Regions from separate parts of the Homo sapiens genome. Here all the other regions are reported to be linked to region 1. Evidence: microRNA targets listed by miRTarBase, many of them from high-throughput screens and not tested one by one. Region 1 holds a microRNA gene; each other region holds the end of a gene's coding sequence.
What was found. The annotated mature microRNA hsa-miR-30e-5p reads UGUAAACAUCCUUGACUGGAAG and lies in region 1 at 2,671-2,692, opposite strand. An mRNA with a match to its seed (bases 2 to 7 or 8) in the 3' UTR can be bound and repressed. Matches are read on the target gene's strand: a 7mer-m8 pairs with bases 2 to 8, a 7mer-A1 pairs with bases 2 to 7 and ends in A, and an 8mer does both.

Region 2: miRTarBase lists SOBP as a target of hsa-miR-30e-5p. The part of its 3' UTR that is shown has no 7-base or 8-base seed match.
Region 3: the mRNA of TBC1D10B is a reported target of hsa-miR-30e-5p. Seed matches in the 3' UTR shown: 8mer at 6,152-6,159.

Annotation. Positions count from the first base shown.
Region 1 is chr1:40,747,117-40,757,062 of GRCh38, reverse strand. It overlaps MIR30E (microRNA 30e), which reads right to left and starts at 2,708; the gene lies at 2,617-2,708. It overlaps NFYC (nuclear transcription factor Y subunit gamma), which reads right to left. Exons shown (of 10, transcript NM_014223.5): 3 at 9,458-9,529; 4 at 7,377-7,490; 5 at 3,817-3,912.
Region 2 is chr6:107,633,249-107,643,194 of GRCh38, reverse strand. It overlaps SOBP (sine oculis binding protein homolog), which reads right to left. Exons shown (of 7, transcript NM_018013.4): 6 at 7,726-9,681. The coding sequence ends at 7,729. Among named protein-coding and RNA genes, the nearest start is that of SOBP, 150 kb to the right of the region's middle.
Region 3 is chr16:30,351,023-30,360,968 of GRCh38, forward strand. TBC1D10B (TBC1 domain family member 10B) reads right to left here. Exons shown (of 9, transcript NM_015527.4): 5 at 8,705-8,819; 6 at 8,516-8,581; 7 at 8,150-8,339; 8 at 7,641-7,795; 9 at 6,080-7,551. The coding sequence ends at 6,922. It overlaps CD2BP2 (CD2 cytoplasmic tail binding protein 2), which reads right to left and starts at 4,286. Exons shown (of 7, transcript NM_006110.3): 1 at 4,190-4,286; 2 at 3,582-3,685; 3 at 3,162-3,300; 4 at 2,879-3,036; 5 at 2,346-2,778; 6 at 2,159-2,265; 7 at 1-2,073. The coding sequence starts at 3,659. The coding sequence ends at 1,963. It overlaps CD2BP2-DT (CD2BP2 divergent transcript), which reads left to right and starts at 4,412. Exons shown (of 2, transcript NR_184233.1): 1 at 4,412-4,598; 2 at 5,271-9,305. RefSeq lists enhancers at 3,300-4,251, 3,336-4,535, 4,226-4,520, 4,252-5,203, 4,258-4,317 and 1 more.

The DNA.
Region 1 (9,946 bases):
TTCTTAGATGTACACAGACCCTGTGGATTGCCTCCAACTCCCCAAAGTAACATTTACAAAGCTGGTATTGACCCCATCCCCACACTATGTTAGGTGCCCTCAACTGTGCTTCCAAAGTACTGTCCTCACAGTATACATTTTTGCACTTGCATGTCAAATTAACTGTCTGTTCTACTAAAATGTTAAGCACCATGAGGGCAAAGCCTAGCTCTCTCTTGCTCTCTGCTATCCCCCGCGTTCCCAGGTAGGCACTCAGTAAGTGCGTGATGAATGATGAATGGATTTAGACAGGCAGACAGTTAGAGGCAGGAAAGTAGTTCTCTGAATCCAACTTGCTGATATGACAAATTCTCTTAAACCCAACAGCTGTTACCAATAGAAAAAAGTAGTCTCTAAACTCTCTTTTGGTACCTCTAAGACTCTGTGGCCACAGTGTGAGGAAGCAGCTAGTGTCCCCTGTGGAACAGAGCTGAGTATCCTTTGTTTGCCTGATGTCTGGGGGCTAGGATACTAAAACTAGGACTGCCAGTATCTACCCCTGAGAAACATGGGTCTCTGCATGACATGGTTACTTGACAGCCATCTACCCAGCTTAGGGAGATACCTGTAACATTCTGGGTTTCTAAGTTAATATATGAACTGACTTTTTAGGTTGATATAGTCTGTGCTTCAGACACAAATAGTTTTAACCCTCAATATGATTATGCTAAGGCAGAAGGAAAAGGAGATTCCCTTTTATTTTCATCTAGGTCTCAATTTCCACAACAATTTCAACCCCAACTTATCATCATTATAAATAAATGTCAGCCTGGAAACTAGGTATTGGCTGTGGCAAAGCTAAAATACTGATACCTTTTGCAGCCAAGAAACAGAAGCCAACTGCTCTTTGCAAAGCTATTGAAGTAGGTTCAAGGTACTTGTGTTCCACTGAGATCTCCCTTATTATTTTACAAAAAGCACAAATCACTGAAATCCAGACCTAACTTGGAAAAGCTCTTGGGTAATGAGAGGGTATACAGGAATGAGAGCCTCAGAACCAGCTGTGTAGGAAGCTAGGCAGCAGGGAGACACCTGCATTTTCTAGCCGTGACCTGTGATTGTTTAGTCTCCAGTTATCCCCAACTACAGCTGATCTAGTATTGAATATGATCTTTTTGTCAGACAAAAAGCAAACCCTTTAAAAACCCCTTCCAGAACCCAAAATATCTCTTGCCAAAAGCTGTGAGAGCAGGACAAGAGCTCCTCCTATGCTGCTTACTACATCCTCTTAAACTGTTTATGAACTAGACAGTATCTAGGACACTGAGAATCAAGTGGAGGCACCTAGGTTTGTGTTGTTAGGACAAGGCACAACTGTTCTCAAATCACTGGAATGGAAGAAGGCATATCTAAGGCTCTTCTGCATTATGAAGACTCATTCTGCCAATGGAGGTCAAGCCAGCAAGGAAATGATTATGCTTGGTTTAAAGAAATGGGTGAAAAGATAATGACATTTCAATGGGCAGGAACTTTCAACTCAATAGCTTTAGTGGGGCAGAAGTCAGGCCTCAACTACCTCCTACCTTCAAATAATCTTTACTTGCTTCTCTGAAGAACAAGCGAAACTCTCAAGTATCTTTGAGAAGTCAGGGCCTTGGACTCACAATTCAGTATTTCTGACTAGTTCCTTTTCCCAGCAGTGGGAGGTTGCCCCAAGTGGCAGAACAATGCTTTAATGACTGGATCAATCCAGAATGGGGCACTTGCTCAACTTTAGCAGTGGCCTCCCCAACTACAGGGCTTGCTCTTGGAATCTTTCCAGAAGCTGAGACTGACGAACAGTGCCAGAGAAGAGCAGCATCACATCCTAGGGCCATCTCTACAGTGTTGTGCAACCAGCCCTGACTGGAAAAAAGTACATTCGCTTTAGTAGCAAGAGTGAACTGCTGCCTCCTTCAGAAAGGGTGGGTTTTGGAGAGTAGGCGTTTTAAAGGACTTTAGGAGGTGCCAGCCAATTTGAAGCCTGGGAAAACTTCATGTCTACAGAGGATTAAAAATGCTATCTTAGAATTTCAGGCCAGCTTTCAGCAATCTCAACCTTTCAAAGGCCAGGCAGCAGCTGTCCCGAATACGATGCCAATCAATGCCTCGAACACCTACAAAGAACTAAATCCAAGCAACAAGAAGCTGTTTCAGCTAGACACACTTTAAAATCAGATGGATCATAGCATTTTGAGTCTGGCTAAGATGGAATAAGGAGCTGTATGACACCCCGAGAGACCCAGAAGCACTGAGGAATTTGGAGGAACTGACAGGATGTGACCCTTCTCTCCAGCCAGTGTATTCAGCAGGCAGCCCACAGAAAACAAGGAGTTAGCACAATGAGAGTGAGCAAGGCCTGATTTCATCACAGAGCTCACAATCTTGTTTTAAAGGGGGCTTCTGATAGACAAAAGGAGAAAACAATTTCAACAAGGAAAGCAGGTGTATGATACTCTTTGTTCTGAAGGAAGATAAATGGCCTGAGTTCTTGTTGTGACTTCTGAGAGAGGAGGGAAGGACCCCCAAGAGGAGGAATTGAGCCTGTGGGCACAAACCTGCAATGTTTCAAAGCCGGTGCGTAGCTGGGGACGACCGTGGCAGCCTGCCGCTGTAAACATCCGACTGAAAGCTCCTCTGAACACCTTACAGCTTCCAGTCAAGGATGTTTACAGTAGCAAAGACTGCCCAGAAAGAACGGAGACGCAGTGAGGCACACCCTACTCTAGTAAGGAGGTGACAGAGGGCTTGCTAATCCAAAGGCCCTCATGCAGGGTCAGAATTACAAATGTTCATTAGGATGCCCACTTCTCCTAGACTTTCTCTGACTGGTTATTAATACAGGCTGGGATGGGGAGAATGGCTGTCACTGAATGACTGCTTCTAAGGATAATATACTATGAAATAATTCATTAAAAATAAAGTTTTATATAACAAAGCAAGCAGAACAAGGCACAGCTTTGCTCCTGTGAGATTCTGCCACAATTTCCCAAGTGGCACCTAGTGAATCATGCAATCTGCATGCTTAAAACAATGAGCTCTAAAGGACAGAGGTCTATTACAATCACAATTAAGAGCTATATGCACCCAAGGTGCTGAAAAAACAACTAGTGTGACCTTTGGAGAGGGGCAGGCAGAAGAGACGGGAAGGCAGACGTTCATATTCTTTCTTGTGATTGCTTGCAAAACAGCTCAAGTGGTGGTTCTCAAATCTGACTGCACATTAAAAGCATCCAGGGAGTTTTAAAAGGTACTGATGCCTGGGCTCCATCATGAGATTCTGATTCAGCTGATGTGGGTTAGAGCCTGGGCGCTGATATTTTTAAAACCCCAACAGGTGATTCTAGTGTGCAGTCAGGGTACTATATAAAGATATAATGAACCACAATATAGAGGAAGAGAAAACATAGTCCATTCACTCCAAATGCCACTGTGCACATAGAGAAGCTGTTTCTTAAAAATCTAAAATCTATAACTTTCTGGGAATATTCTCCTATCCCAGATGAAGAGCTCTGATAGACTTCCTAAGATAACTTGAAATGAGCTTAACTTTACCATTTGTAACTAAAGTCTTTCATTTTCATTTTGTCTATTTTCACTGAAATACCACTTCGGAGGCACTGAGTTAAAAGTATCCAGAAATGAGTAACAGAAGGAGATGTTAAGAATGAATCTGGTCTAGAAACGAGAAGCAAAAGGAATAGCAAATGACTTGTGCTGAGAGAGAAGGAGCGTATCTGACACCAGTATACAAAGCGCTCTTCAGTCAGCAGCAACTGCAATCCCTTCACAGCTCACCTGACGCTTTGGAGGTTTCAGTTCATCTCTTGGAACAATATCGATGAGAAAATCAAACTGATCAAATTTTGTAATTGCCATGGCGATATCATTTCTCTGTAACAAAGAAGAGCGGTGTGAAAAATTAGCCTGGGGAGAAACTAGTTCACTTGGCTTTATACCCTCCAAGTAAGGTAAGACGACTTTTAAGCCAAACTAAACACCTACGGGCAAGTCTACAGCTGAAATAAGCACAGCCAAACTCATATACTTTAAATGATCAGACCTGGTGGGCAACCATCAACAAAAAAGAAAGAGATACATGTAACTCACACTGTAAAATGGGGTATCTGAGCCTCCAACCACTGCTACTCCTGCTTGATCCTCTCCCCGCGATTTTCAAATTACAAACCTAGTAATCTCAATTAGCAGGTTTCTGGTCATTCTGTGGGTTAGCAAAGTTAGGTTTATAATCTTTTTAAGGCCCTAAATAATATTTTCCCTTTGGTTCACAAGTATTGAATTAGGTAAAATCCTAATTCAATAACTTTTTGCAACATTTTCAAGTCACTGGATCTATATACACTAAGTTCTCACAAGCTATGATTTTTATTTGGGAATTCTAAATTGCAATACTTAAACCATGGGTTTATCATTGCAGTTCTGAATTCCCAAATAAAAAACATAGCTTGTGAGAATTCTGATATTCATAGTTTGTGCTATGAACAGCAGCAAGAGAGGTAAGAGAACACAGGAGTCAGAAGGCTAATGATACTGAAACCAAGACCTGCTCTAATGGGGGTTTCTCTCCAAGTGTGATACTTCCTTTCTTTGAATAATAAAATTAAAAGATTTTTACTAAAACCCAACATATTATGTATAGTTAAGATTTGTGTACTTTACTAAAGATTTAAAGCAAAAGGAAAAACAATATGAAAAAACACTGAACGCTAGTGAATGATATGCATGTTAAAGTATTTGGGCAAAGTAAACTTTACAATGCACTTAAAAACAGATTACTTGAAGGATGGATAGAGGGATAAACAGATATGAGAATAAAATAAGCATAGTAAAATGTTTATGGTAGAATCTAGGTTGTAAGTATACAGGTATTCACTGTAAACTTTGCTTATGTTTGAAATTTTTCATAATAAAATGCTGGGGAAAATGTTAACACACTAACAGAAATCCTTAGCAAACTCTATATACCACACCTTAAAAGGTGACTCATCGGACAAAACAGGAGAGGATGGAAATTTTTTTTTTCTTTCCCTTGTATCTGTGATGGCCCCAAGCCTCTGAAATGCAAAACTCTAGTCCGCCCTTCTTGCCAACCACGAGCTTGACGATAAACCCTCCCAACTGAAGCAGGGCCCATCTTAAGATTGCCAGAACTCATTTAAGATGACTACAATATAGTGTCACATTTTTTGATGTCATCTACTCAATCTATCTAAATGGCTCATTTATTGATGGAATAAAAGGGGAAAAAGAAAAATAATAAACATCTCCAGCATATAATAAAATATTCTAGAGTATTTTGGAAACATAGATATACTTAAGTTGGTCTTCCTAAAATTTTTATTTGCTTTTTAAATTCCCTGAGGCAGGAGGATCGCTTGAGCCAGGAGTTTCAAGACCAGCTCTGGGCAACATAGTAAGGCCTCATCTCTACAACAACAACAACAAAAATTTTAAGCCAGATATGGTGGCATGCACCTGTAGTCTCAGCTACTTGGGAGGCTGAGGTGGGAGGATCACTTGAGCCCAGGAGGTCGAGGCTGCAATGAGCTGTGATTGCGCCACTGCACTCCAGCCTAGGCCACAGAGTGAGACCCTATCTCAAAAAATAAAAAAGGAATATAGAAAGTTCCTTCTAGCCCTTTCCAGTCAATATCCTTCCCCACACTCCCCTAAATCTGGGCAACCACAACTCTGATTTCTATCACTATAGGTGGTAATAATGCATTGTATCATGCACTATGTAATTTTTTCCCTCTGGTTCCTTTTGTTAACATAGTATCTTTGAGATTTATCCATGTTGTATGGAGCAATGGTTTGTTTCTTTTTATTGCTGAGGAGGAATCCATTTCATCAATACCTCAGAATTTGTTTATATATTCCTATATTGATGGACACTTGAGTTGTTTCCAGTTTTGAGGTAGTATAAACAAGGTTGTTAAGAGCATTTTTATATAAGAATGGCTACAGTTCTTTTGGGTACAAACCTAGGAATGAAATGGCTGGGTTACAGAGTAGGGGGATATGTTTATCAGAAAATGTCTAATATTTTTTCAAACTGACTGACCACTTTAGATTCTGACCAGCAATATATGAGTTTCAGACACTCCACTTCCTCACCAACTGTGGTATTGTCAGTCTTTTTTATTTTAGGTATTCTAGTGGGTGTAAAACAGTATCTCACTGCAGTTTTTTATTTCCCTGATGACTAATGATGTTGCATATCTTCTCATGGGTTTATTGGGCATTTGTTTATCTTTTTTTCTGAAGGTCTGTCCAAGTGTTTTGCCTATTTTATTTTCTAATCTGAATTGATCTTGAAGGGAGCTTTAACTGGATCTCTCTGGATCCACAGACTAACTTCAAGGCAACATAAATTTTGTGACTTCAACATGCATATCATTTATTGGAGCTCAGTATTTTTTGCTTTTTTTGCTTTAAAACTTTCATATAGTAATGTACACAAATCCTAACTTTATGACGCATTGACAAGCTGTACTAGAATGCAGGCTTCCCACAGATAAGGATTTTTGTCTGTTGTGTGTATCGTTAATCCCCAGAGCCTAGAAAAGTGCCCGGCACATTGTGGGTGTTCAGTAAGTATTTTTAGAATAAATGAATAAACACATGCATTTTCTACTTTGTAGGTAAAGGGAAACAAGAAGAGAAAATAATTTACTTTCTTGGCTTCATTGTTAAAATACTGCCACCACTGTTTTATACTTGTTACACTCTTCTTCTTGTATCTGGGAAATCTTTCCTCTAAGAGCCAGGGCTTGGCTATAGGGTGAGGGTTTCTAGAGTCAATGACCAAGGGCTCTGCATACAGTATGAATGTGAATTCGCTAGGTTAAAAATTAAAATTAAAAAAAAAAGAAGAAGAAAAAGAAAAGGACTCCCAGGAAGGCTGACAAGGAACAAAAAGCCTAATGAAGCTAGTGAGACTGATGATACTTCCTGGAATCTCTCAAGGCTCCCAACCAGAAGTTGATTACGTTTGGAAACAGGTAAATACTCTTATCACTTGAGCCTCTGTTTATAGTGAGGGCTCACCAAGGGAAAAGAGTTCAGTCACTAAGCTGTGAAAACCAGGAGAGAATTGATTAAGATTTTTGGTGGAGAAACACAATCACCATGGCTAGAAGGTATGTCTGCCTCCCAACAGTGGTGATGCCAATGACACGTCAGCTTGATAGAGGCCTAAAGGAGAACAATCTTTGGTCCTAAAGGAGAACAATCTTTGGTCCTAAAGGAGAACAATCTTTCTCCAACACCACGCAGGAAAACAGGCAAAGGCTGCTGCTTACCCCAGTTTTCCTAATCTAAGTCTGCAATAATACCTGTAGAGTCCGGCGCTTGTTATCTTCTGTGTGAATCCAGGCTCGAAGAGTCAACTCTGTGATAAAAATCTGGGCTGCCTTGGCAAAGAGTACAGGCGCTTCTGCACTGATCATCTGTAACAGACACAGGCCCTCCCTGTCAATCACCAGCAAGTCATGCAAACCAGTCTGTCTCTTGCCTCATTGCCTGGCATGGGACTATGGGGCAAGGGTCAAAAAATGAGGTGGTATACTCAAGAGATTCCAAGGTAAAATAAATCCATGAGTGGGAACAAAGCAGGTAACAGGGAGAAAGAATACTTATCTAGCACATACCATGCGCCAAACCTTGTGCAAGGTGTTTTCTTACTCTTATAATAGCCTTTCAAAGAAACTAGGGGTCAAGAGAGATGAAGTGACTTGCCCACAGCCATAGAGCCAGTAAGTGGCAGGGTTTAGGTTCTAATCCAAGGAGAAACAATATGAGGAAGGAGAATGAGCTTGAAAGCCAATGGATTTGGATAAAATTGCAGGCTTCCCATCCTTTTGGGCTTTTTCATGTACTGAAAAAGAGGATAACCTTTCAGTTTTATTGTGGCAATCAAATGAGATAATATATGTACCCAGCCCAGGGCTTGGCATATAGGAAATGCTCAAGCCATATAAACTTTCTTGATGTGTCTGATTTCAAAGTTGAAGCTCTTGGTCAAACAAGGTTCTAAACCTTTGGTGAGGTAGTCTGTGCAGGATACAGCCACAGAAAGAGCTCTGGAGTTAAAGAAGCAGCAGATGGGAAATGGGATCTTGGTCCTATCACTCTGGGTGAGTCACTTAACCTCTTTGTGTCTATTTCCATTGTCTGTAAAATGGAACTGATAATTCTTATTATATCAAATCTCACAGGGCTACTGTGAGGAAGAAAGGAGCTAATAAAAGGGAAAATTACTATCAATTGTTAGCTTTCTGTGAAAATACAAAAGACTATTAATTTTGAGTGGTAAAGAGACAGAGTTCCTCTTTCTCTGAGATCTGTAATGGAGATGGACTCCTAGGAATACAGAAATGGCCAAGCCCACGCAAACCCTCTCACAAGTATTATTCATGTAAAAGAAACTCATAGATCAAAAGGTTAGAACAGGTAGAATATCATTATCAAAAATTTCTTAAGAGTTCAGATCAACAAACTATGTAAGACGCTAAGATGATGGCACTGTCCTGTTGATTTGATGATACATGTATATACTACACTGTGAACAGAACTGTGAGATACCAGCTGGGCATGGTGGCTCATGCCTAATCCTAGCACTTTGGGAGGCTGAGGCTGGAGGACTGCTTGAGCCCAGGAGTTCGTGACTAGCCTGGACAACATGGTGAGATCCTGTCCCCCACTCCAAAAAAACATTAAAAATTAAGCCAGACATGATGGCACGTGCCTGTAGTCCCAGCTACTTGGGAGGCTGAGGTGGGAAGATCACTTAAGCCTGGGAGGTGAAGGCTACAGTGAGCCGTGATTATGCCATTGCCCTCCAGCCTGGGTGACAGAGTGAGACCCTGTCTCAAAAAGAAAGAAAAGGCCAGATGCGGTGGCTCACACCTGTAATCCCAGCACTTTGGGAGGCAGAGGCAGGCATATCACCTGAGGTCGGGAGTTCAAGACCAGCCTGGCCAACATGGTGAAACCCTGTCTCTACAAAAAATACAAAAATTAGCTAGGTGTGGTGGCGGGCGCCTGTAATCCTAGCTACTCGGGAGTCTGAGGCATGGGAATTGCCTGAACCTGGGAGGCAGAGGTTGCAGTGAGCTAAGCTCGCACCACTGCACTGCGGCCTGGATAACAGAGTAAAACTCTCAAAAAAAAAAAAAAAACCCAACATCAACTATTTTTTCAACATCTAAAAAATTTTCAGGATGATCCATATAGTAACCAAAACTGCTCAATTTTGGCTCACTTAACAATTTTGCACAGGAACCAAATAACAAAGCAACAGACAGTAATTTTTGTGTGTTCTTGTTTAATTAAACTTTGAGCTCTAGAGAAATGAGCAATAACCTACCCATCACTTAGCTTCAATAAGAAATAATAAAAATGAATGTGAATTCACCTTCACATCTTCATCCAGTTTCATAATCTTCTTAATACGAGCCAGTGGGAGTTCCTGCACTCGGAAGTCTTTCTGAAATGAACAACAAGAGATGCATAAATGGTGGGGACAATCAACAGTGTGGCAAAGCATGACAGGCAGTAGGAAACACTCTGGCTTGGTCCCTCTCTTCAGGAAGCGTATGTCGGGAGAGAAGGTACAGATGAAATGAAGAAAATACAAGCTCCAGAGCAAAATTCTTCTTTACTTAACATATGCAGGTCTTCAAAGAATTAATGGGCTTTAGAAAAAGCTTAGGATGGCCTCTAACAGTGCTCTCATGAAACACAGCCCCAAGCAATATCTGTTTTTTTTTTTTTTTCGTCAGCACAACATAGAGGGACATTATGAGCGCCTTCTTTTTTTTTCCAAGTAAGTTTACCAGTCTGCAATATGCAGATTAAAATGAGATTTCTGTCTCAGGGGTATTCCTCTAAACTGCCAGTTCTT
Region 2 (9,946 bases), not on the chromosome of region 1:
GTGTGTGTGTAGATTTCTTTAGAAAAAGATCACGTTACAGTCTGAATTTCTAAAACAAGAGTTGAAGGATGAAATATAGGGTTTCCCCTTCTCTCTCCAAATGCCGTTTAGCCACTTTGCTTCTAGATAATTTGTTATTGTAGGTTGGTTCAAATTTAAGACAGTAACATTTTAGAAACACTTGCAGAACTAAGCCAGCTGCAAGGAGGATATCATTACAAATTGAGACACATGTTGTATGGGAATACCATTCATTTTCAATACCAAAAACATATCTGGGGAAATAAGCCATGCAAATGAGGGAAAGATCTACTTTTTAGTTGTATTTTTTTGGATGTTAGGTCAATGTTCCATATCAAATGAATTCATGAAGCGTTTCTCCCTTTTGTTCTTTAAATACTATCAGTCACATTCTTACTTCCCTTTTTACCCAAAACAAAACACAGCTTACTATATCAAAGACAGACAACAAACCAGAGGTTCAGAGGGGAAAATGATGAGACAACTAGTGCTGGTGCAGCCAAATATCTGGATGGGAATGAGGCTGGGAGCACTGGAAGCTTTGATTTGCCCCAGCCCTGACCCCTTGGCTACCTGGAAAGCCAGGTCTGCTCTGCCCCCATCTCTCTACTCAGGGCTGTACATCTGGACCACACAGTACAATTGCACAAGCATTTTTTGCTTATGATCATTAATTCAGTCCAAGGAGTGGCAGAGTTAGGTAACTTGACTGATTTCCAATTTTAAACTATGTAGTACACTTGGGACTATTTTAAAGCATTAGAGAATAATTCCAAGTTTTTGTTATTGTCATTTTCTTTTGCTCCAGTCATTTTTCACTAGAATCTTTTCGATGACCCTTGAAATAAGTTTTGTGCATGTGTGTGTACTTCCCCTCCCTGTTGATGGTCTCATGTTCCCAATCCTGACCCCACCCTATTTTTTTTTTCTGTGCTGTGGAAATCCACAAATCTGGAGAAGAACTCTCTGCAGTTAGTATTCAGAGCTGGTGTCTGAAATGGCATTTACCCCATTTCCTTGAGAATGGGACCCTGTTAAACGATGCCAGTGCTAAATTGTTTATTTTCTAAAGCTAATTTCTTTCTTTCTCTGAATGAATTTCGTTTATGCCCTTTGAGGCCCTAAGAAAAAGTTTACACATGCAGAATGCATTGCCTTAACATCCATCCACATAGAAAGTGCTATGCACTTAAAACGGCAACGGAAGGATACAAAATAAGTTGTGCAGGACACGGTAAGAGAAAACAGCATGGCCACCCCCGTCCCTTTGGCACGATCTCTTAGACAGGAAAGTCTGGAAAAGGCGGGGCGTTCGGGTGAGGGTAAGTGTTCCACAACATGAGGTAAGTGTTCCACGGTGCAGCGTATTTTGGTCCTCAGACATCTCTGCCCCTCTGCAGCACTTGTCTGCATGAAGGTAGGTGTAAATGATTGAACATGGTGCACAGGCAGCAGCTTAGGCTGGCAAGGGAGTGACTCATTGGAAACCAGTCAGGGAACTGATTTCCAGTGCCCTCCTGGGCAACGGCTGGTTAATAGCTGGCCGAACGCGTCTCTTTCCAAGTGCAGTCTCTCCAAGTAAAGAGGCATACTGGGGAGCTAGGGAGCATTGGCAGCGCTCCCAGACACTGCCACATCAATGCCCTGGTGTTCACCGACCTGTCCACCTCTCTGACTCTGGCCATTCTGCTTTCTTGGCCTCAGTGGCAGAGTAGAAGATCTTTCCACAGAAGAACAGTGTCTCCCTGTATCGTACAAATTTTGAAGGTCCAAGTGCTGGGGAAGTATCTAGCTTATTTCTTTTCTTGCTTCTCTTTTCTTCTTTCATCACAGGCCCTTGTGGGAAATGGTAACTTGAAGAAAAGTCTGTAACCTTTTGCATTGTGTCACTAAGGCAATCTTATTGAGGCAAGTGCTACATGATGTAGCTCCAACTTTGATTCTGCAATATTAGGCCCACAGCAGAAATTGCCAAACAATATATTCTAAGTTTTAAGAGAAACTTTCCATTAATTCAGCTTCCTCAGAGAAACAAGAAAAATTTCAACTCAGATATTGCTCCATAATAAGGTAAGATAATCCTTCAGAGATATAGAGCATACTTTTTCTGGAGCCAAAATCTATGGACGTCTTCTCCCATGAAAATGCCTCTGTGCATAGGCACATAAAACTTTCCATGAAATTTCAGGGGGAGTTGCTGAAGGCCATCCAGGGACGAGTCCAGGGGGCCAGGAGACCAGCTTTAGGGAGCTGCCATATGGATCTGGAGACAGAGCCAGGACCAGTGCTGCACTAGCATGACCCTGAGTGGGTGCCTCCTCAAAGTCTCTGCCCTAAGCCCTTCCTTTGCTTCACTCTAGTCCCAGTCCTGCTGAAGATGGAAGGTTATGGGTACATCTGAAAGTAATAAATATCCAGTCACAGATGTCATTTCATATTCCATCATAACCTGATTGACATCATATATAAAAGTTGGATGCTTGTACATTAAAACCTTCCCTCCAAGTCCCTGGTCATAAGGGTTAACATGGTCCCAGCAGCATTGAATTGGGACATATCTCAGGCCAATCTTGACACCATTCATTCCAGAAAACTTTCCTCTACAAGTCTGAAATGATCACAGGAAGCACACTCCCAGGTCCTCCCACTCACATGTGTCCATGACACAGACCTGGTGTCTTCTTTCTGGCTCTCTGAAGTACCTCTACCTAGAACTATATGTGCCAACTGCATCCCAACAGACAAGCTAACCCTTAACTTAGGGACTGTCACCAATTAATATTCCCAATAGTCAAGTACTGGACCATTAGATAGCACAAGTCTGACACAGGATCCGAGCACATCCCATTCATACTGATTTCCTTTTGTCACTCTCAGTTTTCCTTCTTTTCCTTGTTTTAAAAGTAGGCACCTATAGTATTGTTTCGAATGTATGGACTGACTTCCCAACCTCCTCCCAGACAGCCTCCTCTCTTGAACTTCTCAGTTTGAGAAACTAAATTGGCAAAAAACTTTTTGGGACCTCCACCCTTTTGGCTTCCCCAATGAAGTGAACTCCTTGCCTTGGAACAGTTGTTTCTAGGACTGTGGCTCCATGACCAGACTAATAATTAAACTCCAAAAAGCCAAACTACAGGTGCCTCCTCCAGCTTTCCCTGAGAAAATAAGATGTCAAGTCCCCCCTGCTGAGCCTGGAGTAGTATCATGGAATTGGGACCAGGAAAAAGGGTCTTATATTTTCTTTCTGGTTTTTGAAACTTAGAAATTTGGGAGCCACAAAGGTGGAAAAGTGAGATGAAAGGGTTACTCCTTGTACACATTTTTTCCATTGATTATTTTACTTAAAGAGTCTATGTCATTTCCCTGGAAAACTGAGGAGGGGGAATATTTTCTTTTGAATATCTTCAAACATTTGCAAATGGTTACTCTGAACTCCCCAATGTACCATAAACAAGTGTAAACTGTAGAAATTCAGAAAATGTACAAATACAAACAGCTATCCCTCAAGCTCCTAGGCAAAGACAAAGAAGGGAGTATTCCATTTATAAATGGAATTCTTTGTGGATAGAATAGTTCGGAAAATGTTTATACATTGTTTTCCTTATTATTCGGGGGGATATTTTTTCCAGCTTACAGAAGCTGCAGAACTGGCATTTGGAGTCTTAAAAGTTGAAGATCAAAGGAAGTTTACAACCTTTTAAAATCTTCAACTAAACTTAATTAGTTCTGCATCTGGGGAAAATAGTTGTCCACTGAAATCATTTGTAATCATATCAACACACAAGAATGCATAAAGGCAGGTAACCAGGAACAGAATAATTTCCAAATGGGGAAAAAAAAACCCTATAATTTACAAAGAACTAGCAAATAAGACTTCCTTGAAGACAACTGTAGCTGCCTCGGTTGCTAATTTCTAGATACTTTGGTCTGCTTTTGATCTATTTTAAATGATTTTTTTAAACAGTACTACAGACTGGGAGCGGCGGCTCACACCTGTAATCCCAACACTTTGGGAGACCAAGGTGGGCAGATCACTTGAGGTCAGGAGTTTGAGACCAGCCTAGCTAACATGGTGAAACCCCATCTCTACCAAAAATATAAAAAATAGCTGGGCATGGTGGCATGTGCCTGTAATCCCAGCTGCTCAGGAGGCTGAGGCAGGAGAATTGCTTCAACCCCGGAGGCAGAGGTTGCAGTGAGCCCAGATTGTGCCACTGCACTCCAGCCTGGGCAACAGACCAAGACTGTCTCAAAAAAATAATAAATAAAATAAAATAAAAATAATAAAATAGTACTACAGTATGAAAAAGGCAGACATAGTGAGAAGAATGAAGAGCTGACTGAAGTTATTGACAGATTATCCTATATAATATATAATGAATATATATGAGAAATAATATATAATGAATCACCAACAAGCACACGGAGAAATCATTCACCTGCACCTCACCCACCACATCTCAGCCTGAGTTTTGCTTTTGGTTTGTAACACTTTCCACTTTGGCTTTTAACTTGTCACCAGTGTTCAGCATCAGGGCACAAAAGCCATACGGTCCTTTATTTAGTGGATACACTTCCAATTTCCCCAACCATATGAACGGTCTGGGTTTCTGAAGGCATAGAAGAAAAACAGCACCACATGTGCACAAAAAAACAGGAAGGGGCCTGGGCACGTTGGCTCACACCTGTAATCCCAGCACTTTGGGAGGCCGAGGTGGGTGGATCACCTGAGGTCAGGAGTTCGAGACCAGCCTGGCCAACATGGCAAAACCCTGTCTCTACTAAAAATACAAAGATTAGCTGGGCATCGTGGCGCGTGGCTATAACCCCAGCTACTCAGGAGGCTGAGGCAGGAGAATCACTTGAACCCAGGCAGCCGAGGTTGCAGTGAGCCAAGGTCGCGCCACTGCGCTCCAGCCTGGGTGACAGATTGAGACTCTGTCTCAAAAAATAATAAATAACTAAATAAATAAATAAAACAAACCAGGAAGGGCCAGAGAATGTGAGTAAATTGTGGCAGGTTGAGACTGTGCTGTGAGGTGACACGGAACTTCTGAGGGCAAGAGGAAATGTGATTTAGTGGAGGAGAGGTGGTTTTTCCCCCATCTTAAATCACTTGCCTTGTCACCCTTTCGTAGCTGACAAAGCCTGAGTATTTCTGTATTTCTGATTTTAAAGAAAAGCTGTAATTTCTTGGGGGACCCATCATTGAAAGAACTCTTCAATCTCAAGAGGTAGTGGGCAATTTCATCACCACATCTTCTGAAATTGGCTGGAGCCAGGTTGATATTTTTAATGATTCTGGTCCACATACAAGACTGATTCTTTATTCAGAAACATATATCATCCAAATAGCCATCGTGTATTTTATGTTTTTATGTTATTTTGGTCCCAAGCTACTCATATGTTAGTGTCACTATTCTTGACCTGGTCACTTCTCACTCCAATGATGGTATAATAGTAAAATCTCTCACCCTCCCATTCTTCTTCTTTTCAGCCTCACCTGAATGAGTGATATTAGAATGTGTTTAAAGTGACAATTCCCAATGCTTTCTGACTTTCTGAAGGCCGTCACTTTTTTTGTCACACATCTTCCCATTACTCACAGCTTTGTCAACCAGATTAAATTACTCTCGTGAAGAAATCAGGGGCATTTTCAATTGAGGTGACTGTGAGAAGGCTGAGGCCATCTGTCTTCAGGCAGCAGAACTTGTAGATGTAAAATCAAGAAGGAATGGTGAACTCATTTTTAGTATTCTTCCTCTACTGGCAAAGCCATCAGAGGAAAAGGAAACCTCGAACGATGGTGGCTGAGAAACCTTTCTTCCTCAACTGACAAGTCTCCTTGCTCTGGTCTGTGCTTCCCAAGCAATCTCCTGGCTATGCTAGGGGCCCAACTTAGAGACCAGGGACTGGACACACCACAGCAAGTGCTGTGCTCCACGTTTGTATTTCCCACTGTGGAGTAATGGGTTGGTAATTTAGGCTTGTTGGTGCTGCAGAAACAAGAATTCAACTGTCTGAACACTTAGAGAAGTTAGGAGGTAGACTCAGTTTTTGTTTGTTTTTTAAGAAACTTTCCCCTATGACAACTGAGGGTTGTTTTACCCACTGAGGTGGGTAAAACAATTTTAGTATGTAGGGTAATAAAGAAACTAATTAGCCTATTCTCCTACAGTGGTTTTTTAAAAAATGCAGCTCTGGAGTCAGACAGCCTGGATTTGCATCTCAACTCTGCTAATTTGGTAAAATCTTGGGCAAGTTACTTTAATGTCTCTGTCTTGGTTTCCTCATCAATAAAATGAAGACGATAATTGTCCTATGGACCCAGATCCAAATAAATACTACCGAAAAACACTTAGAAGACAGCCTGCATACAAATGTGAGCAATTATTCATCTTACGAGATCCACTCTCCTGGCCCCCGCTTCCTTCCTCCTGGAGTTTGCACTCCCACCAGATGGGGGCACGCCATCATTTACCTTTGTATCTCCCTAGTCCCTGGAAGGAGCAGTGTACAAGTTAGGTGCTCAATAAATGCTCATCTCTCCTCTTCCTCTCCATAAGAAGTTGATAAACTCAACTGAATTTTGGCCTGTTTGATGCCCGCTTGGATAGACGGGAGAGCTTGGGCTGTGTCCAACAGGCCTGAGTTGAATACGGCTTCCCCACGTACCAGCTCTGCTTCGGGCACAGTATCTAAGCTTCATCTGCCTCCTTGGTGAGATACAGATGATGCCTATTCCACCAGAATTGGCAGGAGGAGCAAATGAGGCCACCTCTGCCTATGACAGGCACACATGTTAGTTCCCCTTCCCAATATTGAAAAATTTAACTCACTCTTGGCGGCTCACTTGGCATTAGGCAGGAGTCTGTCTATGAGGTCAGAGATGTGCAGTGTCACTCACTTTAGCAATGCCACCCTCTTCCCTATCGAAGCCTCCCATTACCTGCAAAGGTGAGCAACTCATCAGCTAAGCCGCTGGGCCCCAAAAGGGGGAGAGAGCAAAGCTGGTCAGTGACGCTTGAGGCCTACCCTGGGGGATGCTGCTTGGTGCCAAACTGCAGGAAGGAGACCCCATGAACAGGAAAGACACCCTGCCAGGCAAATAGGACTCAGTGGCCTGGGTTCAGTTGACATATGCATGTAAGAGTTAGGTTTCATTCTCACTTTACAAATGGAATCCCGTCCTTATCAAGAAAATTTGGTGACATTCTGCCAATGAGGCAACCAGCTCTATTTAGTAGGTGGCCCAGCTCATGGGTTCACTGGACATTTCACCACTGCCCTGCAACCTCATGATCACACATTTAGGTGTCCCAAGTTAATCTCTTCTCCCTCCCCCCATCCTCCTCTTCTCCAATAGGGTGATTTACGGAGATGAGCATGATAATAAAGTGTAATTGGAGAGACAATATTTCATGACAGGTTGGAGACTGAGCTCTCCCCTCAAGTAAGTGACCCGGGGCTTGGCACTCACATGCTGTGGCTCAGTTTCCTCGGCTGTAAAATGGGAATGATGCTACTGAACAACTCAGCATCAGAGCTGCTGGCTCAGAATGTTGATAGCGTGACCACACCGTGTGCAATATAAAACACACACGGTAAAATCATGACTATAATTACAACTCTCCCCTCTGCCTTGTCAGAAGTAAGGAGAGGTGCACTGGCTGGTGTGGAGGAGCGCCCGGCGGACATACAAACCTTTTACTTATTCTGATTTCTAATTCGGAGGCACCTCCTTTTGAGCGGCGGCTCCAGGTCCTCAGGCCCGGCGCTGAGCATGGGCGAGGAGATGATGCACGGTGCCATGGCAGCCTTCTCCGCGGGTTTTGGCACAGGCTGGATCACGCAGCCGGTCTTGGGCAGCATCCGCAGAGCATAGGCATGGTCCTCGTCCGCGGGGTTATTAAGGTTCGGGTCTGACTTGTCGCCCCCCGCCAGGGCCTCCTCGCCCATCAGCTTTTTGGCCGCCTCCCCGTCCAGGTGGCAGTTGGAAGCACAGTTATTCTCCTTGACCGACTCTAGCTCGCTCACCGCCGGTTCCTCAGGCGACAGCAGCTTCTTGGGGGGCGCGGGCGGCGGCGGCGGCGGCGGCTGCTCGGGAGGCGGCTCCGCGCTCTTAGCGCCCTCGGCGGCGGCGCCGCGCGTGCCGTTCACGATGACGTTGCAGGCCGCGGCCGCCTCGGGGCCCGCCGGGGCGCCCGGGCCTGGGTCGCCGGCGGCGGGCGGGCTGCAGTGGCCGTCCCTGCAGCCGCCGCAGGTCCTGCGCTCCGCGGCGCTCGGCTCGCGCTCCGCCTTGACGTGCGCGTGCAGCGCGCGGTGGATCACGTTGTGCAGCCGGGCTCGGTGGCCCACGGTCAGGTCGATGACGCCGTCCTGCGGGCCCTGCAGCACGCCTGGGAAGCCGAGCTGGCCGCCCGCGCCCGGGGGGCCCGGGGGGCTGCCGGCGCGCCGCGTCAGGTCCACCACCTCGCTCCGGCCATGCTCGGCGGGCGTGGGCGCCAGGCTCAGGGCCTGGCCCGAGCAGCCGGGGGGCGAGTCCGCGGACTTGGACGAGCCCTGCTTGGAGTCCCGGGGGGACAGGGAGTGTCCGCTTGGCTTGCCGCCCGCCGCCGCGGAGTCGCCAGGGGCGTTCGGAATGAAGTTCTCCCCGTTGCTGGAGAACCCGTTGGGGGGCTTGGAGTCGCTGACGTGAGGGATAGGGATGGGGATGGGGATGGGCACCGGTAGGGGCACGATCACGGGGTACGGCACGAGCAGGGTCGGGGGCGGCACCAGCGGGGCAAGCGACGGCAGCCCGAAATTCATCATCTGGGGCACCGGCATCGGGCCATTTGGCATCATGCTCACTGGCGGGAAGGGAAGACTCGGCAGCGGGGCGCCCGGAGGCGGCGGGGGCAGCAGGCCTGGGGGGTTCCCGGGCATGGTGGGGGTGCTCGGGGGGTGGATGTGGGGCGATAGCATGGGCCGGTGCATGGGGCTGGAAGTGGGGCCCAGGTTTCTGGGGCCACCGGGCGGGGGCCCGATGCCGGGAAGCATGGGGTTGGACAGGGGGCTGTTGGGGTTGGAGGCATGGTGCGGAGGCCCGCGGATGAAGGGCGGGCGGATCTGCTGCATGATCTGCTGCTCCATGAAGATGGGCAGCGGCACCGGGCCGCGGTTGGTCATCACCATGGGAGGGCTCCGAGGCGGGACGCCAAGGGGAGGCCCGATGCTAGCAGGTGGCTGGACGGAGACAGGAGGGATATTTGGAGTCTCGCTGATGGGGATGGACTTGGGCACTGGCGTGGGGATTTTAGTGACAGAGCAGTTGGCAGTGTCAGATGGAGAGACGGTGGTGGACGCCGACGGGCCAGGGCCCTGGCTTTGGCCAGCTGTAGCCACCGGGGAGGGGGCCTTCCTCCGAGCATCTGTTAGCGGGATATTCCAAGAGTCTGGAGTGAGCAGCTGCACCCCGGTGCCTTCTGCTTTATTTTCCATGGGAGGGTGTAATGTGCTGCACAGCCCAGCTGGAAGATTGGCCTGGGTCTCTTTGTAGAAAATGTCCATTTTGTATTGATTGAGACATTTTGCACTGCAGAACTGAAGCCTTCTTTCCCCGTCCCCAAAATCCAGGTATTCTTTTGTGTGTCTTATGTGCTTACACCAGTCACATACCTACAACACAGTAATAAAAAACCACAACAGGTAAGACAAGCAATTTACCTGGGTAGATGACGTTTCGTGTTTCACATAAAGGTTCTTTTAAACTTTACCAGCACTTCTCAAACAGGCAGAACTGTTTCCTTCTAAAAGGTAAAATTCTGAAATGTTTGTAAAATGATGGGTTGGCTTTATAAATATGAGCTCTTCAGAATACCAATTATCACAACCTCCTATTCTTTTTTCTTAAATTGTGTTGTCCCCTTTAAGCATGACTTAA
Region 3 (9,946 bases), not on the chromosome of region 1:
CCCCATGATTACTCAGGGCCCACCTCAACCATCCACGGTCATCTCCCCACCACGAAATCCTGAACTGAAGCACAGGCGCCGGGTCCCTTTTGCCACGCAAGGTAACACTTTCCCACGTCCTGGGGTTCCAAACCTGGACATCTCTGGGGGCTGTTATTCCACCCACCGTCATCAGTGAGGCGCCTTCAGGAGGGGCTGTGAGGTCACGTGAGGTCGGCTTCAGAAGGGCTAGGTTTGAGTGCCTGGAGGACACTGGCAGGAGGCGCCCCTGGGCTCCATCCATTTACCACGCACGCACTCAGCACCCCTGAGACCATCCCTGGGGCCTACAGGAGAACCCTGTACCTCAGCAGCCCTGAAACCTGCTTTCCACTTCCGGACCTTTCTGAAATCAAGACGCATCTTTAGATCAATGGCATCTTACTGTGTCACCGGCAGGCCTCTTCTTTCTTAGTGACGTTTAAAGGAAGGTATCTTACCCCTGATGGCTTCTTGGAGTGAATGAAATTCCGGTGTGAGCAGGCACTAGAAGGGGCCTCACAAGAGTGTCAGGTGACCCCACTCCGCCCTGGCCCCCAAGTCTTTCCTAGTTGCTCATCTGGCCCTTTCTGACCTGGGATCCCAAGTGTCCTGCAGCTCCAGTGCCCAGACCCCCATAACTAACAGACCCCACTAAAGCCACACACATGCTCAGCTCTCCAACCACGGTGGGGTCCAGGAGCCACCCCTCCCGCTAGGTGTGCCTAAACCATGGGGATCTGACTCAGGGGCTCTCTCTCGGCCTGGCTGCAAGCTGAAAACACCTGGGGGCTTCCAAAATGCCCAATGCCTGGGCCACAACCTAGACCAGCTCAATCTGAATCTCCAAAGAGATATTACAGCTCCCCAGGAGACTCCAAGGGGCAGCCAGAGTGCAAAACCGGAAGAAACCATCTAACGTGGGGCAAGGGAGGCGTAAGGCAATGCTGGTGGGGCGTGGAGGTGGAGGGTGCCAGGCCCAGGCTATAGAATTACATCTGTCTATTTCCCATGCCCCTGCCACCAGACTCTGAATTCCTGGAAGGGGACCAACCCAGCTACCTCAGTTTCCTCAAGGCACTAGCCCTGTGCCAGGCACATAGTGGGGTCCAGAGAATGTAGGCCGCAGGGCCTCCAAGGCCAGGCAGCAAAGGCTTTGTGCCAAGAAAGGTCTGGGAAAGGAGCCCACTGGGTCTGGGCCAGCCCTTTGATTCCTGTGATCTCCAGTGAGTCACTGCCCCTCTCTGTGCCAGTACAATGCACACTTGGCCCACACTTGGCCACTGAGTTTGCACTTCACTGAAGGGCTGTGGGAACGACGGCAAGGATAGAGGAAAGCCAGATTAGGGAAGACACTGGCTCTCAGAACCTTAGGGATCTCGGTCTTGGGCCACTCATCCCACTTCTGCCCAGCATCTAAGGAGCTTGAGAGGGTGAAGCGAGAGTAAGAGGGTTCCATGCTCACCCCCAACAGGGTCCCAATGTCTTCTCGATGCCCTGGTCCTTCTGGGCCTAAAACATCCACTTCTGGGGCTCTGTCCTCTGGTGGCTACAAGGATAAAGAATCTGAGGTCCTGAAAGCCAAAGACCTAAGAGGAATCGAACAAGAAACCTGGGAGAGGAGCACAGAGCAGCGCAGTTGGGGGTGTTTACACGGCAAGCAGAGTCCAGGCAGGGAGGCCACAGGATACCTGACAGGCACCTCCAAGAAGGATCTTCATGGGAGTACTCAGGGACCAAGACAAGTCCAAAGGGACTGTGGAGAAGGCCCCTGGCTTCTGGCCATCAGCACAGCCAAGGCCCCAGTACACAACTAAAGGCTTTTATTGGGAAAGGGAAATTGACTGAAAAATGGCCTCCAATTTCCTCGCTGCCTGAGACACTTGGTGCCTCCTCCACAAAGTCCAGGAAAGAAGGGCCCACCAAACTGGGCCCCCAGCAGGCTCAGGTGTAGAGGTCAAAGTCAATGCGTTTGGAGTTGTAGAACTGACCACCAGGGGGGTCCAGCTTCCGGCAATAAACACCGTCCGGGAAGTAGCCTTCACTCACCCAGGTCTGCAAGGAGAGGGCAGAGCTGGGGAACAACTGACAGGAGTGGGGGAAGCAGGGACAAGGCAGGAGGAGGGAGAAAGCAGCTCACCTGCATCTGGGCGCTGGTGAAGGGCCCATACAGCTCGGCATCCCCCGTGTTCTCCCACTTATATTCCCACATCACATCCACCAGACCATCTCCCCGCGACTCTGCTTCTAAAATAACAGGCAAAGCCATTTGGCCTCCAGTGTCTCACTTCCTACCCACTGCCCCCTCCTCTGTCCTCCAAGCTCACCTCCTCTCTGGGTAGGGGTTGGGGTCTCCAGTTCCTCCTCCGCCAACTCCTCAGCGAACATGTCCAGGGAGGGTGGGGGTGTGGGATTGTGGGGTCCTAGGGTCTGACACCCCAAACCCTTCAGACGCATAGCCAACCGTTCCCTTGTTTCCTGGTACACACCAAGGTTGCCCCGGGCCACCATCTGGTCGGCCAACCCGGAGAGCCGGTCCAGGCGCTGAGGGGAACTGGGTTGCCCAGGCCCCTTTCTCCCTTTGCCTCCTCCTCGGGCCCCCAGACGCCTCAGTGCCCCAGCCACTGTCTCTCTAGGCAATAGGAGCTCCAAAAGTCCCTCCAAGAGGGCTTGGGCACTCATTGAGGTCTGGCCCAAGCTGTCCTCCTCCTCCGAGTCTGAGGCCTGGCGCTGGCCAGGTGGCCGCTCCCGGATCTTCACCTGTAATGGGAAGATGGAGTGATTTCCCACCAACTGCCACGGGAGCAGGCCCAGCATCTGCCACTCCCAGGCCCCAGCCACGCCAGCCCCTGGGCCGCACCCAGTCAATGTTGTCCAGCCAGCTGTCTCGGATCTGAGCATCCCGGTTCAGGAAGTAGTTGCCATCGGCATCAAAGTGGCCTTCCTCCATCTCCTCCTGCAGGTTAAAGGGTGTGATCCGAACACCCCCCTCGCTGGGGAGTGTGGCTGCCTCCTGACCTGCACCAAAGACACAGGTGCCCTTTTCCAGGCATGGAAAAAAGAGACCGGAGCCTCCCTCGCTCCACACCACCAGAGGCCCCTACTTGTTTTTCCAGCAGAGTGTATTCTTGGGTACAGCTTACCTTCTACATCCTCTGAGGCCAAGATGTCATATTTGCTGGACCCCCCATCATCATCATCCTCCTCCTCATCGCTATCCAAAGAGTGTTTGCCTTTAAAGCGGCTCCCAGGACCCCCTGACCCAGCCACAGGGTCCACCAGCTGTGAGCAGGAGCCAGAAAGTTGAGAAATGCAGGTTACTGGCTACCTCCCCAAATACTTCCGGATCTGGACCCAAATATTCCCCAAATATTTCAGGATCTCGACTACTTCCCCAAATATTTCAGGAGCCACACTAAAGACGCTCCCAACCCATTCCTCAGAGAACCTGAAAAAACTAGGCTTTTCTCTGCCTGCCCGCCCCGCCCCTCTCCCGCCAGCTTTCTTCCTCTTCAGGCTTCTAGCTCCTCTTTCCCCCACACAAAGCAGTCTGGCCCCCTCACCTTCTTCTTGGGGACAATGATTTCATCCTCATCCTCCTCATCTCCCACGCCTTGGAAGGTCACTTTCCTCTTTGGCATGACGGGGCAAAGAGGTGTTTCTCAAGCTGAGGAAAGGATGCAGAGGAAGGGAACCGGGTGAGGAGGGGACTCGCCAACAGACGCAGCACAGCAAACATTTTTCCTGGTCTGTGACAGGTACAGTTTGGGAGCGGAGGGAGCACAAAAGCAGGGGCCGAAAGGAAGCTGGCAGCCAGGAGGCCTCCAGGACTTGGGTCTAGCATCCGCGAGTTAAACGGGGCGGGGACGGAGGAGCGGACCCTCTGGATCCCCCGACCCTGGCTGAAAGGAGACAGGCTTCACCACGTGACCGCCCCCAACTCCAGCCCCCGCAGTCTGCGCGCCACCGGCTCCACGGGCTGACCCCCGCTCTCTACCCTGGCTCTCTCGGAGCTCGCCGGGCCCCGGCAGACCCAGGACCTGGCGCTCTCGCCACCCCGTTCCTCCCTGCTCCGAACTCCCAATTCCGTGTGGTGAGCCCCAACTGTCCCGGGCTGTGTACAACTTAGAGGGCCACGGGGATTCGGGCGGTCCCACCCTCGCGCACTCACCTGGGAATCCGCGGAAGGCGAGGTGGAAAAAAGAAGAGATGCTTGCGCCAGGGCTACATCCGGGGCACCCGGCCGCCATCACCCGGAAGAGGACTGCGGAAGGCGCCCGGGAAGCCCGGAAGTGGCTTCACTCGGGTTAGGGAACTAACTGGAAGAGCGGGCGGAAGTATGCGATAAGCGAGCGAAGACGCCTCCACCCTCTCTCCCGCCAGAAGTGACGTCAGTCACGTGGGAGGACAATGGTGAGAAGAGGGAACCTAAGAATTCCTGGACTCTGACTGGGCGTGAGAAATGGCCGGAAGTAGCTTCGAGTCCGTCATTCAAGCAGTAGAGGCTCTGGAGAAAAACTGGAGCGCATCTGCTTAAAGGGCCGCCCAGGGTCAGGATGGAGGGGCAAAGTCCGAGCAGGGTCAGTGGGTTGCTGCTCCGTTTTCCTGTCCTGGGTTCAAGTCACCCTTCCCCCAGGGCTAAGGGCTCAGCGCCCCTACCGTCTCGTTAGAAATCCTGCCTTCCCATTCCTATGGTCCAGTGGTCAGCCCTCCTAGCCTGAGAGGTGCAGCCTTGCCTCTCCGAGGGGAAGCCTGACTCTCCCGATGGCCAGCCTGGGGCCCCTGGACGGCTCTCCGGGCACTTTCTGAACACACCTCCCTTTAGGACCCAGGGGAAATAATTTGTCCCACGCCCATACCCTGGGCGAGTTCCTGGTTTCTGAGGTGGGAGAGCCATCACTGGAGAGGTGGCATTGGCGCCAGTACTCAGGCCAGAAGCCCCTTGTGCCCTGCTCTCAGGTAGGCCTGGAAAAGGGCAACAGTGCCTCTCTGCAGCATGAAGCCCCCCTGAGCAAACAGGGCCTAGCAACTCCTGCCCAGGTAGCGGAATGTGGCCCAAGCAGAAGGGGGAATTGGGGAGGTAGCGGGGATCAGCCCCTGTGCTGGGACCCCTAGCTCTTGACACTCGGAGCCTGCATCCCCCTAAGCCAAGACTGTGCGCAGGCAGCACGTGCTGAAGCCAGACGAGGACAGCATGAGAGTTCCCCTACTCTTCCCCCAGGCAACTAGATGGGCCACTTCTCTCTCCCTAGGGGTTTCCTCCCATATTGGATCACGATGAAAACTGCACAGAAAGTCCGTGCTCAGTTTCTTCCATGGTTACAGAACACAGGCCCCAGACCAGGAAGGCATTCTGCTAAAGAAGGGGACCCGAAACCTCAGCTACCAGCGCCGATGGTTCATCCTCCGAGGAAACCTCCTCTTCTACCTAGAACACTAGACCGACCATGCACCCCTGAGCCTCATCCTGTTAGAGAACTGCCAGGTGGAACCACACCTTAAGGCTGCAGAACCCTATGCCTTTACCATCCTGACCCCTGGGGTGGAGGGCACAGGTGGGCGGGCCTACAAGCTGGCTGCAGAAACCCAGGAAGAGCTGGAGACTTGGCTGTGGGCACTGGCTGGCGCGAGCTGGAGGCGGCTGGCTGGGCTGCTGTCCCCCCTCCCCCCCCACCAAAACCCAATACTGGGAGCTGTGCCAGGCAACTGGCCAAGAACCCATCTCATCCCCAGAGGACAGTGGCTTTCTAGCCACTGTGAGTACCCCCTCCAGCTTCCAGGAGTTGCATGAGCACTTTGGGAAGGAGATCCGGGTGCTGCACGTGGTACATAGAGAGCTCCAGGCAGCCAGTGACAATGGAGACAGCAGATCCCAGGCAAAGATGGAGCAGGAGCTCAACCAGTGTCTGATGAGTGACTGAGAGATGGACCCAAAGCTAAGAGGTACCTACTTGCCAAGACAGCAGACTGCTTCAACAGAGACCCAGGTCCTGGCTCTGTCCCTCCCTCCCTCGTCCTTACCCCATCCCCCCCTCATCAAATAACAAGGCAGAAAACAGGCCCAGGTACAACAGCAGGTTCTTTTCCAATTCCTCAAAGCGCTGCATGGGGTGGGGGCAGAGACAGAAGAGAATGTAAACATTGGGTTCCACCCCCTGGAGCTCAAGGGAAGACCCTTACCCAGATAGGGACTAACTGGAGGGGTGGAAGGGAACAAGGTGAAAGGTATGGGTCCTGGTGAGACAAAAGCAGGGGGGCCTGAGAACACAGAGCAAGGTGGGTTTGGAGGGAGCACAGCAGGGTGCAGGAAGGGAGATGGGGGACATTTCCTATTCCAGTGCATGTCCCCTTAAATAAACTGGGTACAGGAGCATTATGGAAGGAGAACCAAAGGACAGAAGACAAAGCGAGCACCCCCACCCCAGGCCAACGCCATCCTCTGTACACAATTACAACACAGGTCCAGAATGAGAGCCCTGGCCAGGAAGTGGGGGAGACAGGGAGGGCTGAAGACAGGGAAAAGGAAGCCAGCTCCACCTCATGGTAAGGGGAGCTATGGAGTGTAAGAATCTGAAACTGCTGACTCCCATCACCAGGAGTCACCCCTGGGATGACAACGGGCCATTCAGGACAGCACCTAGGAGGGGACCCAGAGGGAACTGGGGCAGGAGCGACAGAGACCCCAGCTGAGCCTCATGGGAGATGAGAGGCTCCAGACTCATTTGCAGCTGCCCATCTGTCCTGCCCGTGTAGGGATCAGCAGCTGGCGAGGAGATGGGGAACCAAGCCACTTTCCCCAGCAAGGGACAGCCTGACAAGGTGCTAGGGGGTGGCACCTTGGGCCAGGCCTGTTCTTGGCTGAGGGAAAGAGGGGGGCCATGCAGTCCAGCCCCAGGGCAGAGGTCAGAAGTAAGCGTCCTGCCGGGCCTCGGCTGAGGGCCTGTCCCCACCATCATGGGGGCCTGGGGGCCCATCTGCCTTTCGACGCAGCGAAAGCTTCCGGCCTTGAGCCTTCTTCTCCTGCTTCTGCCGCTCCTTCTCCTGCTTCTCTCGCTCCTTTTCCTGCTTCTCTCGCTCTTTCTCCTGCTTCTGCCGCTCCTTCTCCCGCTCCTTCTCCTGTTTCTGCCGCTCCTTCTCCTGTTTCTGCCGCTCCTTCTCCTGCTTCCGGGTCTCCTTGCTGGAACCCAAGGGGGTGCTATTGCCAGTGGGTGAGGGAAGGGATGGATGCAGTCCCTCAGCAGTGACCACAGGCCCTGGGGCAGGCCCAGCACTGGCTCTGCGGACGGGGGGCGGCGGGGACGGGGCCCCTCCAGCTGCCCGGGAGCCTCGGCTCTTGAGGCCAGGGAGGCTGAGGAGGCTGGAGGAGGGGCCCAGGGGTGGCTGTTGCCGCCGGCGCTCCTCGTGGATGGCCCGGGACCCATGCAGTCGCCGTGAGGGCCGATACTGCAGCTCCCCCCGCGTTTCCCGCCACTTCTTGAGCTGGGCTGCATTCTCCCGCTCAATCAGTGCTTCTGTCACCGGCAGATTGGTCACCTGCACAGAGAGGAAATGCGTACCAGAATGGAGCTGAGGGTGGGAGCGGGCTGAGGCAGGCAGGGGCTGCGTTGAGGGCACAGGCCTACCTCATGCACCAGGAAGTCTTCCTGCATGCACTGCTGGGGCAGGTTACGCAGCTGCTCCATGGTCTCATACATGCCTTGGCAGGAGCGCAGCTTCTCCACTGAGCCCAGCGTGTGGCGCAGCAGGACCAGGGCCACCCGGAAGATGATCTTAACGCCTGCAGGGGTGGAGAGTAGAGAGCATGGGGTGGTCAGACCCAAGATCTCAGCCTGTCCTGATCAGGATAGACTCACAGCCCCCATCCCCATCTACTGCCAATCTCAGATGAGGAAACTGAGGCCCTGTGAAAGTACATGAGCTGCTATCAGTCTCAGGATCTTGGCAGGGAGAGCAGGCTCTGGGTTGGTGGCAGAACTAAAATCAGGCCTGTTTCTCCAGCCCCCAGCTGCTTATGGTGAAACCTCCACCCAACAAGTACCTTTTGTCCATGGACCACCAGAAATATGACAGAACCCCTGGTAGCCACCACAGAAACCCCAGCCCCTCATGGCCTGGAGGGCCACAGAAGTACCTTCACAGAAAAACATGTCCCAGACACGCAGCACCGACGCCCAGGGCAGGGTGCGGGCGAAGATGCACATGAACCACTCCGTCATGTAGAGCACAGGGTCAATGCGCTGCCGCCGCAGGTGGCGATGCGCCAGCGGGGAGGCCCGGCGCAGGAGTGCAAAAAAGATCTCCCCGTCCAGCTGAATGGCCTCCTGCAGGTGGGACAAGCCATGAGAAGAGGGCCAAGTCAGCTGTGCCCCCATCAGGGGAGAACTGGCCGGCCCTGTGGGCAGAAGCCGGGAAGGCCAGGGTGGGGCAAGGCAAGGACCTGCCTGCAGCCTGGAGGAAACGCCACAGCCCCGGATGCACCCAGCCTCCAGACACTCACCAGCCCTGCACTGTAGTAACCTGGGAGGTACTTGTCGCAGATCTGCACCAGGCACCAAAAGGCTTGCTGAGAAGAGCAAGAACAAGGAGGAGGGGTGGGGCCTGAGAAGCAGGGAGCAGGGAGCTCCCCCATCACCACTGTAGGGTGAGATCCCCCCTGCCCCTCCCGGCCCAGGACCAGGGCGCTGACCTCCGCAGGCATGTGCATGAGCAGGACCGCAGCCACGGGGGCCTGGGCCTGGCAGTAACCCTCGTCAGGCCGGTAGATGGTGTAGGCCTTCAGGATTCGGTACAGGTCCTGTTGCCTGTGGGGGTTGGGGAAGACTGTGAGGGCAGTCACGGGCTGAGAGCTCTGTCCCCAAACCCAGTTCCAGATTCGTCCCAGAGTTTATCACCAGGCTCCTCCATCCACCTGCCCAGTCCTGCTGAGCGAGCTTCAGCTAAAGGCTCAGCCCACAGCAGAGCACTCCAGGCCCCGGGGCTCCGCCTTTGGCTACATACTCCACATGCTCCTGGCCATCCCAGCACAGGCTGCACCCTCGCCCTCCTTCCTCAGCCACATCCCAGAAACCTTCCAGGTCATTTTCTCCAGGAAGCTTTCCACAGCTGCAGCATCAGCCCTCCTCTAGCACTAAATGTCTTTGTCACCCCAAAGCAGTAGCTCCCCAGGGCAGGGCCTGCCTTATCGGTCTCACTGGATTTCATGGTTCTTGGGGAAGGCTTGGAAGCCAGCTGTGCCTCAGCCCTTTCTCCTGTCTCTGCATCCAAAAGAATAAAATCTGTACCCTAGATCTGCTCTTCTTGAGGGTGCCCCACTGCCGTGTCCAGGACTTCTATTCACTCAGCCCCACATCAGAAAAGAGCCCCTTACTCCAAGCCTAAGCAGCGCTGCACCCTGAATTCCATTCCTGCCTGCTCCTCTCCACCTCCACAGCCATTCGCAGCTCAGACCTCCATTTCTTGCCCATAAAAAATGACCTCCCAGATCCTCTCCCTGCCTCCAGTCTCACACATCCTCCTCCTGACCACTTCCCAGAATAGCTTTTCCCAAAACTCCAGGCATTCAAGTGTGATCTTCATTTGTATTTTATCTGCATACCACCCTACTATTTAGTTGACATTTTTTCTCCACTTTGCAAAAGCATCCACGAAATGACAGGTTTGATATGGTTATTTTACCTAATGCATATTAAAATAAATATGTAACTTCCACAAGCACCCACACCCATCACCCACCTGCCTGCTTCCGTGTCCCTGCCTTCTCCCTGTTGCTATGGGTGAAGAGTCTGTGATCCTGGCAAGCACTTCCTTTCCACTTGGGCCCAGGATCCCATCCCCTCTCGCGTGTACAGGCCACCACTCCAACAACCCTCCCCTTGCTCCTGCACTATCAATTTCTCTCTCCACCGTTCCCACAAGCATACCCACATGC